2 separate regions of the Homo sapiens genome follow, and region 2 is linked to region 1. A link means that fine-mapping ties the variant in region 1 to the expression of a gene that starts in the linked region. Tissue or cell type: whole blood. Region 1 holds a variant in brackets; the other region holds the start of a gene. All regions are shown on one strand. Distances are from middle to middle.

The links. PIP is the estimated chance that this variant, and not a neighbour inherited with it, causes the effect.
Region 2: MYBL2 starts here. The variant in region 1 is fine-mapped to the expression of MYBL2 in whole blood (INTERVAL, PIP above 0.99).

What each region holds. Positions count from the first base shown.
Region 1 is chr20:43,599,214-43,607,318 of GRCh38, forward strand. IFT52 (intraflagellar transport 52) reads left to right here. Exons shown (of 14, transcript NM_016004.5): 4 at 4,547-4,676; 5 at 4,970-5,045; 6 at 5,789-5,860. Among named protein-coding and RNA genes, the nearest start is that of IFT52, 12 kb to the left of the region's middle. The variant G/T (reference allele first, on the strand shown) is at 3,979.
Region 2 is chr20:43,662,491-43,670,579 of GRCh38, forward strand. MYBL2 (MYB proto-oncogene like 2) reads left to right here and starts at 4,624. Exons shown (of 14, transcript NM_002466.4): 1 at 4,624-4,813. The coding sequence starts at 4,794. RefSeq lists silencers at 4,419-4,713, 4,450-4,829 and enhancers at 4,419-4,713, 5,480-5,529.

The DNA of each region.
Region 1 (8,105 bases):
CCATCTCCCCATCCACCTAGCGAAGCCAATGAGAGAGTTGGCCTGATGTTTGCCAGGGACCAACCAGCCTCAGGAACACAGGGGCATCCAAAGAGAGGGTCAGAACCTGGTGCCTGGGCCTTTTCCCAAGTGGAGATGGGTGCCAGGCCAAGCCTTAGTTTGGGCTTCCAGGCATGGTAGGCTGATGCATCCAAGAGACACAAGTCCTTCGAGAGGCAAATTTGATGTAACTTTAGCCTAATAAAACGTCCTCTCCCAGACCAGTCCCTGACACCATACCTTCTCTTTAGAGTTGGAGTGAGGTGGGAAGAAAAGGGAAAAAAGCTGTTAGCTTTTTTTCTAGGAATCAGCATTCCTTTGTGTTACAGTTCTTCCAATGGGCTCATGCTTGTGAGATCACTGCTTTCCTTGTCATTGCTGCTGGCCTCCTAGACTGTTACCCCTGGAGAGCTGTGTGATGCCTTTTTCATGTTGACTTCCAGAAACTTCTGTGACAGGACAGACATCATATGTCTGATATTAGATGCTAGTATCATGCTAGAAACTAGGCTGAACAGTCTTTCCTTATTTCCACCTCAACTACATTGACGCATTACACTAGCTTTGTGGTGGTATTCAGTTACGACCAGGTAACCACGTGGCTGAGACGAGTATTTTCCAACCCTAACAGACCAGCATCCACCTATATTACAGATGCCAACTTTGTTACCCTGAATTGAAATGCAAAGATAATCTAACCCACCACCATTAAAAAAGTAAAGCAATATAACTTCCTAACTTTAATGTACAGAAATTAAAGGATGATTTATAAAAGAATATGTGTATTTCAAATTGTAAATGTTTATGCATATATATACTAGAAGAATATACATATTTCAGTTTGTTAATGCTTGGTCATACATGCATTAGAACACTTCTTTATGTTTGACATTTTGAAATAAATGTTTAATAAGTATGTAGAACTCCGATGAATGGGATAGGTACATATGCAGACTGGTGGAAGTGATGTATTGGCAATTCAAATCATGAGCCGTGTTGCTGTCGGTGATGTGATTTTTCCAAAATACTGACTAACTCTTGGTAAAGTTCTATTTTTTTTTTTTTTTCCTGAGACGGAGTCTTGCTCTGTCACCCAGGCTGGAGTGCAGTGGAGTGATCTCAGCTCACTGCAAGCTCCGCCTCCCGGGTTCACGCCATTCTCCTGCCTCAGCCTTCCGAGTAGGTGGTACTACAGGTGCCCACCACCACGCCCGGCTAATTTTTTGTATTTTTAGTAGAGATGGGGTTTCACCGTGTTAGCCAGGGTGATCTCGATCTCCTGGCCTTGTGATCCGCCCGCCTTGGCCTCTGGTAAAGTTCTGTTAATAAAAAGAGTATAATTCTTCTCTCAGTTTACATGGTAGTTGGGTACCTCCGAATTCAGTATATGTTAAATCGTGCAAAAAATACTTTGTACAGTATTTACATAGAATTTGAGCTGGGCGCAGTAGCTTACTCCTGTAATCCCAGGAGTTTGGGAGGCCGAGGCGGGTGGAACACCAGACGTCAGGAGTTTGAGACTAGCCTGGCCAACATGGTGAAACCTTGTCTCTACTGAAAATACAAAAATTAGCCAGGTGTGGTGGCAGGCTCCTGTAGTCACAACTACTCAGGAGGCTGAGGCAGGAGAATCACTTGAACCCAGGAGGCGAAGTTTGCAGTGAGCCGAGATCGAGCCACTGCAGCATGGGTGACAGAGCAAGACTTCATCTCAAAAAAAATAAAGAAATTGGAGTTAGATTTTAGGCTGAGCTTCTTTTGTTTGTTTGCTTTTTCTTTTTTAAACCTCCGTGACTATCTGAGAAGATATTCAAATGCTGTGGAATAGTTCTTTACTGTGTGGGACTGGTCTGAATATTGCAGGACCTTAACTTCCCTGCCCTTCACCCGCTAAAATGTCCTTAAACATTAATATTATGGCATTAATATTTTGCCATATTAATATTAATATTATGGTGATCCAGAATACATGCTAGATGGTTTAAATGCCTCCACTGAGAGCCACTGGCCTGGATCATCCAGTCTCGATTACAGGAAATACCTCACATTTGCTGCCACACTAACAGTGTGAATGCATTCTAAGCCAATTTCTAAAATTCAAGTCTGCAAAATTAATCTTTCTTCCTGTTTTTGCCATAAAGAAATAAGAAACCTCCAGTTTGTACCAAATATCCATTCTTTTGTTAGAAGGGTCTCACTTACGTGTATAGCTGGAAACTGGGTCATAATTCATGTAAGCTCCTTCAACTTTTGCCCACCTGTGTTATTGCACACCACATCCTTCATGTATCTTTTTCTTAAAATGCCAGATGGCCAATAGGACACAGTAGATACCAATAACTACTATATACTCATTGCATTTAGGCAACATGGACAAATCCCAGAACCACATAATCATGAAAACCAAGTCCCAGTAGAATTTCCCAAGCAAAAGCTATGTTCTGAGAATATATATTGCAAACTAGACCTGGCTTGCTATTATCAGTCATAGAACATAGCATATATTTAGGGCTGTCTGGGAAGAGGAGTTTGAGAGGAAATCAAAAGGAAGGAAAAGGAAGATGAATTTAGGGAGAGATTCAGTCTGTTGTTCAGGGTCCAGGATCATGCAGTTATAACCCATTTGTTTTGTTTTTCTGTTGTTGTTCCAAAAAATGTTTACTAAGGATCTGTTACACACCTAGTAACAGGTCCTAGGACTAACGCTAGGGATCAAAGTCAAATAGCACATGATCTCTCCACTCAAGGAACCGATAGTCTAGGGGAAATGACACAAATGGACCATCTACCAATAATGATCAATGTTCTAAGTTCCACATTTCTACAGAAACACAGAAAAGAGGCATTGGATTATTGGGTCCAGAGGAAATGGACTTTGAGCTGATTTTTATTTTATTTATTTATTTATTTATTTATTTATTTATTTATTTTGAGACAGAGTCTTGCTCTGTCGCCAGGCTGGAGTGCATTGGCGCATTCTCGGCTCATTGCAACCTCCGCCTCCCAGGTTCAACTGATTCTCCTGCCTCAGCCTCCCGAGTAGCGGGGATTACAGGCATCTGCCCCCACACCTGGCTATTTGTATTTTTAGTAGACACGGGGTTTCACCATGTTGGCCAGGCTGGTCTCGAGCTCCTGACCTCAAGTGATCCACCCACCTCAGCCTCCCAAACTGTTGGGATTACAGGCATGAGCCACTGCACCCCGCCTTAATTTTGATTTTGAAATAATTCATTTTTTATTTTGTTTTGTTTTTTTGTTGTGTTTCGTTTTTGAGATGGAATCTTGCTCTGTTGCCCAGGCTGGAATGCAGTGGTGCAATCTCGGCTCACTGCAACCTCCACCACCTGGGTTCAAGCAATTCCCCTCCCTCAACCTTCCAAGTAGCTGGGGCTACGGGTGCATACCACCACGCCTGGCTAATTTTTGCATTTTTAGTAGAGACGGGGGTTTCACCATGTTGGCCAAGCTGGTCTCGAACTCCTCACCTCAAGTGATCCGCCTACCTTGGCCTCTGAAGATTCATTTGTTTTATACAGTGTGGGGAAGGCAGGGGGAGAGGAAAATTCAGGGAGCATACAAGAGCGAGAGGGCCGTGCTGTGGCAAATCTAGTCTGGGCAGTAGTTTCCAAAGTAGGATGCATGTGATGAATCAGTGGGGTGCCAAAAGGAAATTATGTTTATTATTCATATTTTCATTACCCTTAAAACATTTCCTTTTTGGGAGTTGTTTTGAATTATAAAGTACATATTTTATATAGAGATACATACATATTGAATGTATTTATATACATGTTCAGATTTTTTTCTGCTGGAGTGCTTGATGAAGAAAGTTGAGAAACTATTTGTCTGGACCACCCACCCCAGATTTTCTCAGGCTAGACCAGCAAGATCAACCCTAGATTTTTCTCCCTTCCCCAGCTTTGTGAAAATGAGAGA[G/T]CTTCCAGGAGATAAGCAGAAAACATGCGTTTCTCTCTATGGTTTGGTTGGTCAATGACCTTGAACAGAATTCCTCCCAGGTGTGGTATGAAATGACTTCATCCTGATATCCTCTGTGGGCAGTCAAGAGAAGGCATTGTCTAAATCAGTGGTTCTTAACTAGGGGTGATTCTATTTCTTCTTCTCCTGAGGGAACATGTGGCAATCTCAAGAGACATTTTTGGTTGCCAGGGGAAGGTAGGTACAACTGGCATCTAGTAGGTGGAGACCAGGGGTGCTGCTGAATGGAGAACTGAGTGCTTCCTTTAGTTAAGTTTTTCACTTTTGACTTGCTCTCTAGATAGTCAGCTTTGAAATTGTCAATTTACTTTGAGTATTTTGGAGCTTTATGCTCAAAGACAAGCTTGGAGATCCTACATAGAGAGTACTTTTTATCTTATATACATTTATATGTAAATGCCTTATAGATTTGAAATATGTATTTTTCATCTAGTTAAGGTCTTATTCATGGTATTTCGGGCAAAAGTCTTTCAAGTATATTCATAGATTGCTTTTTTCCTTTGTGTAGTTTGAAATCCTGAAGAAATATCTTGACACTGGTGGAGATGTCTTTGTGATGCTAGGAGAAGGTGGAGAATCCAGATTTGACACCAATATTAACTTTTTACTAGAAGAATATGGAATCATGGTTAATAATGGTAATTAGTATTATTATTTTCAGTAGAGGCAGTACTTTTCTATCTATTATTTGATATCATAGCCCTCTAGGTCCAGTGGCATAATGGAAAAAGCCCTGGGCTGTGTGTGCGTGTTTTAATGTTCCATTCTCATCAGCAGTCTGAGCCTCCTAGGCTTGGGCTGCTTCCATTTATAAAGCGAGATGGATTGGAACCAAGTTCCAGGGTGCCCTTCAGGTCAAAATTGGTATGAGTCTATAATATCGAATTTATTTCTAACCTAAAATATACCTCCTTCTCTTTTTCCCTCATAGATGCTGTGGTTAGAAATGTATATCACAAATATTTCCATCCTAAAGAAGCTCTAGTTTCCAGTGGAGTCTTGAACAGGTAAGCATGTTGAAAGCAGAAATATCTTGGCAAGGCATCGTCGCTCACACCTGTAATCCCAGCACTTTGGGAAGCCAAGGTGGATGGATCATTTTGAGGTCAGGAGTTCCAAACCAGCCTGGCCAACATGGTGAAACCCCATCTCCCTGTCTAAAAATACAAAAAAAATTAGCCAGGCATTGTAGCAGGCGCCTGTAATCCCAGCTACTCGGGAGGCTGAGGCAGGAGAATCACTTGAGCCCGGGAAGCAGAGGTTGCATTGAGCTGAGATTGCACCATTGTACTCTGGCCTGGCTGACAGAGCGAGACTTCATCTCAAAAAAAAAATAAAGCAGAAATATCCTTACACATAACTCTCATTTCTTCTACATAAATCTTCCCTCGTCTCTTCTCATACATTCTTTTCACTGCCCTTTCTTCTTTCTTGCCTTTTTGTTTTGTGTTATTATAATTTATTTTACTATATTACTACTACTCATTCATCAAATTATTTTTCTTCATCTTTTGAAACTTACTTCACATTCAATTTATTTTTTGTTTATATATATATGTATTTTTTGAGACAGAGTCTTGCTCTGTTGCTCAGGCTGGAATGCAGTGGTGGGAACACAGTTCACTGCAGCCTTGACCTCCCAGGCTTAAGCAATCCTCCCACCTTAGCCTCATACTTGCTGTACTAATGAATGCAGTGTGAAATTCTCAAATTTTTTTTGTTTACTAGATTTTAATTTTTCTTCTTCAAGGGAAATTAGCCGAGCTGCAGGAAAGGCTGTGCCTGGGATCATTGATGAGGAAAGCAGTGGAAACAATGCCCAGTGAGTGTGTTTTCTGATGCCACATGAGGAAGATGTATCATTTTGGAGTCTTCTTTTTCAAAATGAAAAGAGCTTTTGTTTCTGGTTACAAAAATAATCAGAATTTGAACAGTTCAAGAGGAAAAAAGTAGAAGCTCTGCACTGTAAGTCCATGCTCCTCCCCCTGAAGGTAGTCTTAATATAGTATTTAGGCCCAGCATGGTGGCTCACGCCTGTAATCCTAGCACTTTTGGGAGGCCGAGGTGGGTGGCCCACCTGAGGTCAGGAGTTAGAGACAAGTGTAACCAACATGGCAAAATCCCATCTCTACTAAAAATACAAAAATTAGCCAGGCGTGGTGGTGTGCACCTGTAGTCCCAGCTACTCGGGAGGCTGAGACAGGAGAACTGTTTGAACCCCGGAGGCGGAAGTTGCAGTGAGCCAAGATTACGCCACTGCACTCCAGCCTGGGCAACAGAGCAAGACTCCATCTCAAAAAATATATAGTATGGTATTTAGATTTCTAGGTTTTTTTTTTTCCATGTATAAAGTTATAGGTGAGTACCTCTTCATTTTTAATGACTGGATTAAATTGGATATATCCCAGTTTATCTAACCAACTCCCTATTATTGGACATTTAAGTAGTTTATAATGTTTTTCTTTAATAATACCACCTAATGTTTGTCAAGCATCGACTGTGTGACAGGCATGTATTACCTCATTTAATCCTTACAACTCTGGAAAGTTAGAGATGAGATACAGAGATGTAATTGCCCAAATGCACATGACTACTCTGTGTCAGAACTTAGATGCAAACATAGGCAGTCTATTCTAGAGCCTGCACTCTTAACTTCTGTTCCGTATTGTTGTTATAGACAATTTTATAGCCGGGTGTGGTAGCTCACTCCTGTAATTGCAGCACTTTGGGTGGCCAAGGCGAGTGGATCACCTGAGGTCACGAGTTTGAAACCAGCCTGGCTAACATGGCGAAACCCCGTCTTTACTAAAAATAGAAAATTTAGCTGTGCGTGGTAGTGGGCGCCTATAATCCCAGCTACTGGGGAGGTTGAGGCAGGAGAATCACTTGAACCTGGGAGGTGGAGGTTGCATTGAGCTGCCATCGTACCATTGCACTCTAGCCTGGGGGACAGATGGAGACTTCGTCTAAAAAAAAAAAAATTATATTTGTCATTATAGATAATAAAGCACAAATGAACATCTTTTTTTTTTTTTTTTTTGAGATGGAGTCTCACTCTGTCACCCAGGCTGGAGTGCAGTGGCATGATCTCAGCTCACTGCAACCTCCGCCTCCCAGGTTCAAGTGGTTCTCCTGCCTCAGCCTCCCATGTAGCTGGGATTACAGGCATCTGCCACCACACCCAGCTAATTTCTCTATTTTTAGTAGAGATGGGGTTTCACCATGTTGGTCAGGCTGGTCTTGAACTCCTGACCTCAGGTGATCCACCTGCCTCGGCCTCCCAAAGTGCTGGGATAAGTGAACATCTTTGTATGTACAGTTTTGTGCACTTGTGGTAGTATTTTTTTTTTTTTAATTGATCATTCTTGGGTGTTTCTCGCAGAGGGGGATTTGGCAGGGTCATAGGACAATAGTGGAGGGAAGGTCAGCAGATAAACAAGTGAACAAAGGTCTCTGGTTTTCCTAGGCAGAGGACCCTGCAGCCTTCCGCAGTGTTTGTGTCCCTGGGTACTTGAGATTAGGGAGTGGTGATGACTCTTAACGAGCATGCTGCCTTCAGGCATCTGTTTGACAAAGCACATCTTGCACCGCCCTTAATCCATTTAACCCTGAGTGGACACAGCACATGTTTCAGAGAGCACAGGGTTGGGGGTAAGGTCACAGATCAACAGGATCCCAAGGCAGAATTTTTCTTAGTACAGAACAAAATGAAAAGTCTCCCGTGTCTACTTCTTTCTACACAGACACAGCAACCATCCGATTTCTCAATCTTTTCCCCACCTTTCCCCTCTTTCTATTCCACAAAACCGCCATTGTCATCATGGCCCGTTCTCAATGAGCTGTTGGGTACACCTCCCAGACTGGGTGGTTGCCAGGCAGAGGGGCTCCTCACTTCCCAGTAGGGGCAGCCGGGCAGAGGCGCCCCTCACCTCCTGGATGGGGCGGCTGGCCGGGCGGGGGGCTGACCCCCCCACCTCCCTCCCGGACGGGGCGGCTGGCCGGGCGGGGGGCTGACCCCCCCACCTCCCTCCCGGACGGGGCGGCTGGCCTGGCGGGGGCTGACCCCC
Region 2 (8,089 bases), 63 kb after region 1:
TTTTGAGACAGAGTCTTGCTCTGTCACCCAGGCTGGAGTGCAGTGGCACAGTTTGGGCTCACGGCAACCTCCTCCTCCTGGGTTCAAGTGATTCTCATGCCTCATCCTCCTGAGTAGCTGAGACTGCAGGTTTGTGCCACCATGCCCAGGTAATTTTTGTATTTTTAGTAGATATGGGGTTTCACCATGTTGGCCAGGCTGGTCTCAAAGTCCTGACCTCAAAGTAATTTGCCTGCCTTGGCCTTCTAAAGTGCTGGGATTACGGGCATGACCACTGTGCCCAGCCTGAATCTCTTTTGATGACCCATATTTTATGAGATACAATTCAAACTCTAGCATTCCCAGCTTTCTCACTTGAGGTCCAAGCCTTTCTAACTCTCCAGCCCAAATGTTAGCTTTGTAACATTGCATCCACTCAATTTAAATGGAATGTGTAGAACCCCTTCCATGAGTACCTACCAGAAGCCAAGCTATAGTAAAGGTCTGAAGCTTAAAATGTGCACAGGCTGTCCTTTCTCTTGAGAGAGAAATAAAATGGTGGAGGAAGTGTGATGAGGACAAGAATGATAAGGAGGATGCTCTGGAGGTGGAGGGGGAAGACTCCAGCCAGAAGGGCCATGTGATTCTACTTATCATCAATTAGTGTTTGGTGTCCAAGCTGGTGCTGAGCCCTGAGCATTTAATAAATTGATTTGACCCTTATCTTCCCAACACAGGGTCAGGCCTGGGGGTTGGGGCAAATTGTGGAATAACCAAATACCTGGAGCCTCCCTGTCCAAGGAGGGCGTGTTCAGGAAAAGTTTCCCAGCAGAGATAAATTCTGTATGTTACTAGTCCAGAGTCCAGGGACCACTCCCAGGTGTGGTTTCACTCGGGACACTGGGAATCCTCTCTCCAGGGGATATCTGTTGGTATGATGATAACTGGAGAGGAAATGTGTGGAGATCATCAGATTCCATCTGGCACTAGGGTGATCTCCCTGCTGCCTGACTCACAGCACTGACTCCAGGCTTCTTTGGCTCTGGGGCATTGGTTAACTGGCCCCAGTTCCAGGTTGCAAGTGCACTCTGCAGCTGTTCCCTGCCTCTTGCTTTGGGCAGATACCTTGCCCAAGCTGTCAGGTCCTGCCTCTCCCTGAAATGGGATGACTAATGTGTGGACCTCAAAGGATAAGAGTGAGGGCAGCTGAAGAATTACAGTAGTAATAATAGCTAACAGTAATATAGTTCTTTTTTTGCTGGGCGCGGTGGCTCACGCCTGTAATCCTAGCACTTTGGGAGGCCGAGGTGGGTGGATTGCCTGAGATCAGGAGTTTGAGACCAGCCTGGGGAACATGGTGAAACCCCGATCTCTATTAAAATACAAAAAATTAGCCAGGCGTGGCGGAGTGCTTCTGTAACCCCAGCTACTCGGGAGGCTGGGGTTATTGAGACGGAGTCTTGCTCTGTTGCCAAGGCTGGAGTGCAGTGGCACGATCTCAGCTCACTGCAACCTCCGCCTCCAGGTTCAAGTGATTCTCCTGCCTCAGCCTCCTGAGTAGCTGGAGTTACAGGTGCATGCCGCCACGCCCGGCTAATATTTTATATTTTTAGTAGAGATGGGGTTTCACCATGTTGGCCAAGCTGGTCTCAAACTCCTGACCTTAGGTGACTCACTCGCCTCAGCTTCCCAAACTGCTGGGATTACAGGCATGAGCCACTGTGCCCGGCCAATATAGCTCTCATTATGTGCCAGGAACTGTTTTTGGTGCTTTACACATATTAATTTATTTAATCCTATAATTACCTACAAAGTATAGTGATTAAGAGCATAGACTCTAGAACTAGACAGGCCAGGTTTGAATCCCTGCTCTGCCATTTACTAGCACTGTGACCTTGGGGAAGTCTGTGCCTCAGTTTTCCCATCTGCTAAAAGAGGATAATCCCAGTATCTACCTCATAGAGTTGTTACAAGGATTAAATGAGTTACAATTTATAAACAGAATGCTGGCTGGAAATATTAGCTGGGCATGGCGGCGTGCTCCTGTAACCCCAGTTACTTGGGAGGCTGATAGTTTAAAAACTATCTAAAATTTTGATAAATCCCATTTTTCCAGGTGAGAAAACTGAGGCACAGAAGAGTTAGGTAATTGGCTGGGCATGATGGCTCATGCCTGTAATCCCAGCACTTTGGGAGTCTGAGTCGGGTAGATCACCTGAGGTCAGAAGTTCAAGACCAGCCTGGCCAACATGATGAAAACCCATCTCTACAAAAATACAAAAAATAGCCAGGCATGCTGGCGCATTCCTGTAGTCCTAGCTACTCGAGAGGCTGAGGTGGGAGAATCATTTGAATCCGGGAAGTGGGGGTTGCAGTGAGCCAAGATCACACCACTGCACTCCAGTCTGGGCAATAAAGCAAGACTTGGTCTAAAAAAAAAAAAAAAGTTAAGTAATTTGCCTAAGATACCGCAACTGAATGGTGGAGCTGGGACTCAAACCCCAGGAAGTTTGGCTGTGGAGGCTGTGCTTTCAATGAAGTGGGCATGTCCACATTAATTACTTTATAAGGGGAGTGGGCGGGAGAAACCCTGAATTAAGTGATGTGGAAGCTTCTAGCACTTAAGATGTGAGTTAGTCTTCCTTCTGTGGTAAGTGAAGTTTGCAGCAGCTGGTGGCTGGACTGTCCCCAGGTGGCCAGCAGCTTCTGGAAGGGGGCTCTGAGGCCTGAACAGGGGCTAAAAGGCTGGGGTTTGATTTGGTTTCTTCAGCGTCCTGTCTCAGAGCTCATTTATCTTCCTCTCAGCACTGCTCCCAGGAAGTCCAGTGTGACTTGATCCTTGGTACTTGGTAAATGTCAATCTAATATAGAAAACCTTTGCTAAATCTCAAGGAAAGACAGTCTCACTGTCTGTCGCCCAGGCTGGAGTGCAGTGGCGGGATGACAAGGGCTTGAGCCCCTCGAACTCCTGGGCTCAAGCAATCCTCCTGCCTCTGCTTCCCAAGTAGCTGGGATTACAGGCATTCACCACCACAGCCAGGTAATTTCTTAATTTTTTGTAAAGACAGGGTCTCACTCTGATCCCCAGGCTGGTCTCAAACTTTTGGACTGAATCAGTTCTCCCACCTCGGCCTCCCAAACTGCTAGGATTACTGGCATGAGCCACTAAATCTGGGCTAATCTCTGGGAGTTTAAACCCAAGGTAAACAATTCAATGCAACAAACCTTTGCCTGGGGCTTCTTATGTCAGGTCTTCTACTGGGCCCTGGAGATACTGGTGTGCATTGAGAGGCCACCTGGACCTCAGGATGCTCCCAGTTCAAAGGGGGAAATGCAGAAGTCTACAGGCAGATTGTGGGCAGTGGACCCCAAATTAAATAGGAATCAGCCACGTGGGAGGGGCAGGAAGTGTTCCTGCCCTGGGTAATGGCTCAGGCAAAGGCAAAGAGGCCGTTTCTTTTGGCCAGGGCTGGGTGGTGGTCTGGAAGATCAGATAAATGTGATTGTGGAGTAAGGAATTTACCCTGAGGGAGAGGAGGATGGTTTTAAATTCTGGAAAGAGCTCACGCCTGCAATCCCAGCACTTTGGGAGGACAAAGCGGCAGGATCTCTTGAGCCCAGGAGTTTCTAGACCAGTCTAGGCAACAGCAACATAGCAAGACACCCCCTTCTCTTAAAAAAAAAAAAAAAAGCGCAGTGGCTCACTCCTGTAATTCCAGCACTTTGGGAGGCCGAGGCGGGCGGATCACGAGGTCAGGAGACCTATACCATCCTGGCCAACATGGTGAAACCTCGTCTCTACTAAAATACTAAAAAAAAAAAAAAAAAAAAAAAAAAATTGCCGGGCGTGGTGGTGTGCGCCTGTAGTTCCAGCTACTTGGGAGGCTGAGGCGGGGGAGTCGCTTGAACCCGGGAGGTGGAGGTTGCAGTGAGTCAAGATCGCGCCACTGCACTCCAGCCTGGCGACAAAGCGAGACACCGTCTCAAAAAAAAAAAAAAAAAAAATCAGCCGGGTGTAGTGGCGAGTGCCTGGTCTTAGCTACCCGTGAGTTGAGGTAGGAGGATCGCTTGAGCCTAGGAGGTGGAGGTTGCAGTGAGCTATGATCGCGAAACTGCACTCCAGCCTGGGCGACAGAGCAAGACCCTGCCTCTAAGAAAAATGAACAACAAAAAATAAAGTCTATTAAGGAGGGTCTCTTGGAGGCAGGAGAGGAAGCAGGGAGAGGCACAGGTAGGGTGAGGAGCCGCTTTAGGGTGCGGCTCTAGGGACCCAGTAGTGGCTTGGACTAGCGTGGGGGATTCCGCCCTGGCGCTTTCCCTGGCTGGCTCTCCCATGCTCGCGCCTCGCTCCCCTTCCTCGGTCTTCGCTATGTGGGATACTCCTGGGCCGCCCCGGACTGACACGTGAGCCAGGCCTCGGTCACATCCCGGCCCGCTCCACAACTCCGAAGTAGCGGCCGCCGCCCCTGTCCTGCAGCCGGCCCTGGAGGGTCTGGGCAGGTGCCGCCCCGCAGGCCCCGCCCCGCCCCGCCCCCTGGCTCCGCCCCTCACTCAGGCCCCTCCCCCGGCGCCCGCGCGCCAGGACTGGGCGGCGCCGACGCGCTTGGCGGGAGATAGAAAAGTGCTTCAACCCGCGCCGGCGGCGACTGCAGTTCCTGCGAGCGAGGAGCGCGGGACCTGCTGACACGCTGACGCCTTCGAGCGCGGCCCGGGGCCCGGAGCGGCCGGAGCAGCCCGGGTCCTGACCCCGGCCCGGCTCCCGCTCCGGGCTCTGCCGGCGGGCGGGCGAGCGCGGCGCGGTCCGGGCCGGGGGGATGTCTCGGCGGACGCGCTGGTGAGACGAGCCGGGAGGGCTTGGGCCCCTCCCCCTCCCTTTAACTCACCCCTCCCCCACCCAGATACCCCCGACCCTCCCCAGGCTCCCACCAAGCTGGGGTGTGTGTGTGTGTTGGGGGTGGGGTGTTTCCGCGGAAATGCTGCGTCCTGGGCCCTCTGAGGCAGGGGCGCGCGTAAAGCTGGGGGGCTCTTGGGCGTCCCTCGCGGCTCCCCAGGCCTGTTGGGCCTCGGAGCTGGGACGGGCGGGTCTCTTGGGACCCGGGCCAAGCCGTGCATGATGTCATTTTGTCTCCCGCCTAATTGCGGGATGGGGGTGGGCCGGCCGGTGTCAGCTGGCAGGGCCTTCGCCGGCGAGGGAGGCGACCCCTGGGAGCGAGAGGGAGTCTTCAAGTCCCAGCCAGTGGGAGACCGAGCCTGGGAGGCACTTGTTGCAGCCTAGTTTTGGGTCAACTTGGTGGGTGGGCTTTGCTCCTTAACATTCCGGGGAGCACAGAGTCCCCCAAGCCCTCTCCCCTGGACTGAGAAGGGTGCTGAGTTGGGGGCTCTTTTGTCTCTCCCACCTGGGTTCCGCGCCCCAGCTTGGTTCGGTTTGAGACCTCTCTTCCTGTTCCCACGAGGAGTTTTGGGCAGCTGGGGTTGAAGGTGCGGGGGAGAGAGAGAGTCCCTGGGGCAAAGGCAGGAACTGCGGTCTCCATTTTACTTATTTCCCCAGAGACTTAAGTGGCAGAGCTGAGCCCGGAGCCAGGTCTGTGGCTCCAGATCCCTGTCTTACACCTGTGCGCCTGGGGCCTGAGCTCCAAGCTTTTCAGCCTGCCTGGGAGACAGGACAGTGGGGTCCTGACCTCTTCCCTGCCTGGATCGCTGCAGCTCAGATAACCTTCGTTCCCTCTTTTTTTTTTTTTTTTTTTTTTTTGAGAAGGAGTCTCGCTCTGATGCCCAGGCTGGAGTGCAGTGGCGCGATCTTGGCTCACTGCAACCTCCGCCTCCCAGGTTCAAGCGATTCTCCTGCCTCAGCTTCCCGAGTAGCTGGGACTTCAGGCACGTGTCACCACGTCGGGCTAATTTTTTGTATGTTTAGTAGAGACAGGGTTTCACCATGTTAGCCAGGATGGTCTCGATCTCCTGACCTTGTGTTCCGCCCGACTCGGCCTCCCAAAGTGCTGGGATTACAGGCGTGAGCCACCTTGCCCGGCCAAACTTCGGTCCCTCTTTAGACGATAGCCTCATCTAAAGATGAAGCCTTCCATCCCTCTAGATTTTTGCCCTTTCAGGCTGAGGATAGGGATCTGAGCACAGGGACTGTGTTCCTCAGGCCCCACTTTCCCAGGCCAATGTCCAGGAAGAGTTTTCTGTTCAGGCGCCTATCAGACCCTGCCCTGGTTTTTTTTTTTTTTTTTTTTGAGGCAGGGTCTCCGTCTGCAGTCCAGGCCGGAGTGCTGTGGTGCTGTCATAGCTCACTGTAGCCCCAACCTCCCAGGTTCAAGTGATCTTCCCAACTCAGCCCGCTGGGACTGCAGGCTGAGTAGCTGGGACTATGGGCACGGGCCGCCACAACTGGCTAATTTATTTAATTATTTAGGAGACAGAGCCACTCTGTGTTGCCCAGGCTGGAGTGCAGTGGCACAATCTCGGCTCACTGCAGCCTCTGCCTCCCGGGTTCAAGGAATTCTGTCTCAGCCTCCCAAGTACCTGGGACTATGGGCACACGCCGCCACGCCTGGCTAATTTTTTGGATTTTTAGTAGAGATGGGTTTCACTGTGTTGCTCAGGCAATCCGCCTGCCTTGGCCTCACAGAGTGCTAGGATTACAGGCGTGAGCCACCGCGTCTGGCGTGTTTTATTTTGTGTAGAGATGGAAGGGGGCGGGAGTGGCCTCGCGTTGTGTCTCACCTCACTATGTTACCCAGGCTGGTCTCGAACTCCTGGCTTCCAGGGATTCTCCCCCACTTGGCCTCCCAAAGTGTCGGGATTACAGGTGTGAGCCACCTTGCCTGGCGCCATCCTGATTTTTTGTTCAGGAAGAGTTATTCCAGGAGTGACTGCCTCTAGACCACCCCAGGTCCTGGGCTACTTCTCCCATGAGGGGCTCAGTGGAGGAACCCCTCCTGTGTGAAGGATGGCAGCTCCACAGCCCTCAGCCCATTTCCTGGCCACTTGCTGTAACTCTCCTCTGCCCTAGTGCCCCACTTCCCGCTTTGTCTCTGACTCACCCCTGTCCTGGAGCAGAGCCCAGCACGTTGAAGGGCAAAAGGTAGGGTATGTTGGACCACAATGTGGTTGCCACCACTAACTGGACTCTGCTTTTTCAGCTGGGATTAGGATATGAGGACTTGCAGGTGTCTGGAGTTAGGAAGGTTCAGAGCCTGGCTCTATGAACTTGGCAGGTGGCCTCACCCCTCTGAGCCTCAATTTCCGCATCTGTTAAGGGGGATAATGAGAATGTGGGTGAAGTTGATGGCCAGCACATATGGTAAAGTATATCATCTCACAGAAATGCCCCAGCTGTCTGAGATGCTGACCCTATCAAACAGCATTGGAGGCTGGGTGTGGTAGCTCATGCCTGTAATCCCAGCACTTTGGGAGGCCAAGAGTTCAAGACCAGCTTGACCAATATGGTGAAACTCCTCGTCTCTACCAAAAATACAAAAATTAGCCGGGCGTGGTGGTAGGCGCCTGTAAGCGCGGCTATTCGGGAGGCTGAGGCAGGAGAATTCACTTGAACCCAGGAGGCAGAGGTTGCTGTGAGTCGAGATCATGCCACTGCACTTCAGCCTGGGTGACAAAGCGAGACTCTATCTCAAAATAAACAAACAAACAAACAAACAGCATTGGAGCACCAGGGAGTGTCCATGCAGACATCATTTCATCCTTGAAAGAATATTTGCTGACCTTCTGTTAGAAGCCAGGCCTTTGTGCTGGATGCTGGAGAAGCAAAGATGGTTTCTGTCACGAGCTGTCTGGGGGCAGTTGATTTTAAAGCCAACTTCATTCTGTTATTAGTATCTTCTGGATTTTTGCCTTCTATATTGAAGTGGTGGAGGACCCATGAACTGGGTCAGGAATGAATTCCAGATCCTTCTGTATTGCTGACTGTAGACACCGTCCCTCCTTTCCTATTTCTGAAAATTTTTTTCTTTTGAAATTGGGTCTTGCCTGGCCTAAAAAATTTAATTAGTATTTCTTATTGACTAATAGGCAGCAGCTTTGCACATTTTTTCATTTATTTGTATATTCAGTCAGTCCCTGGGCAAACATTTCTTAAGCCCTTTTGGTG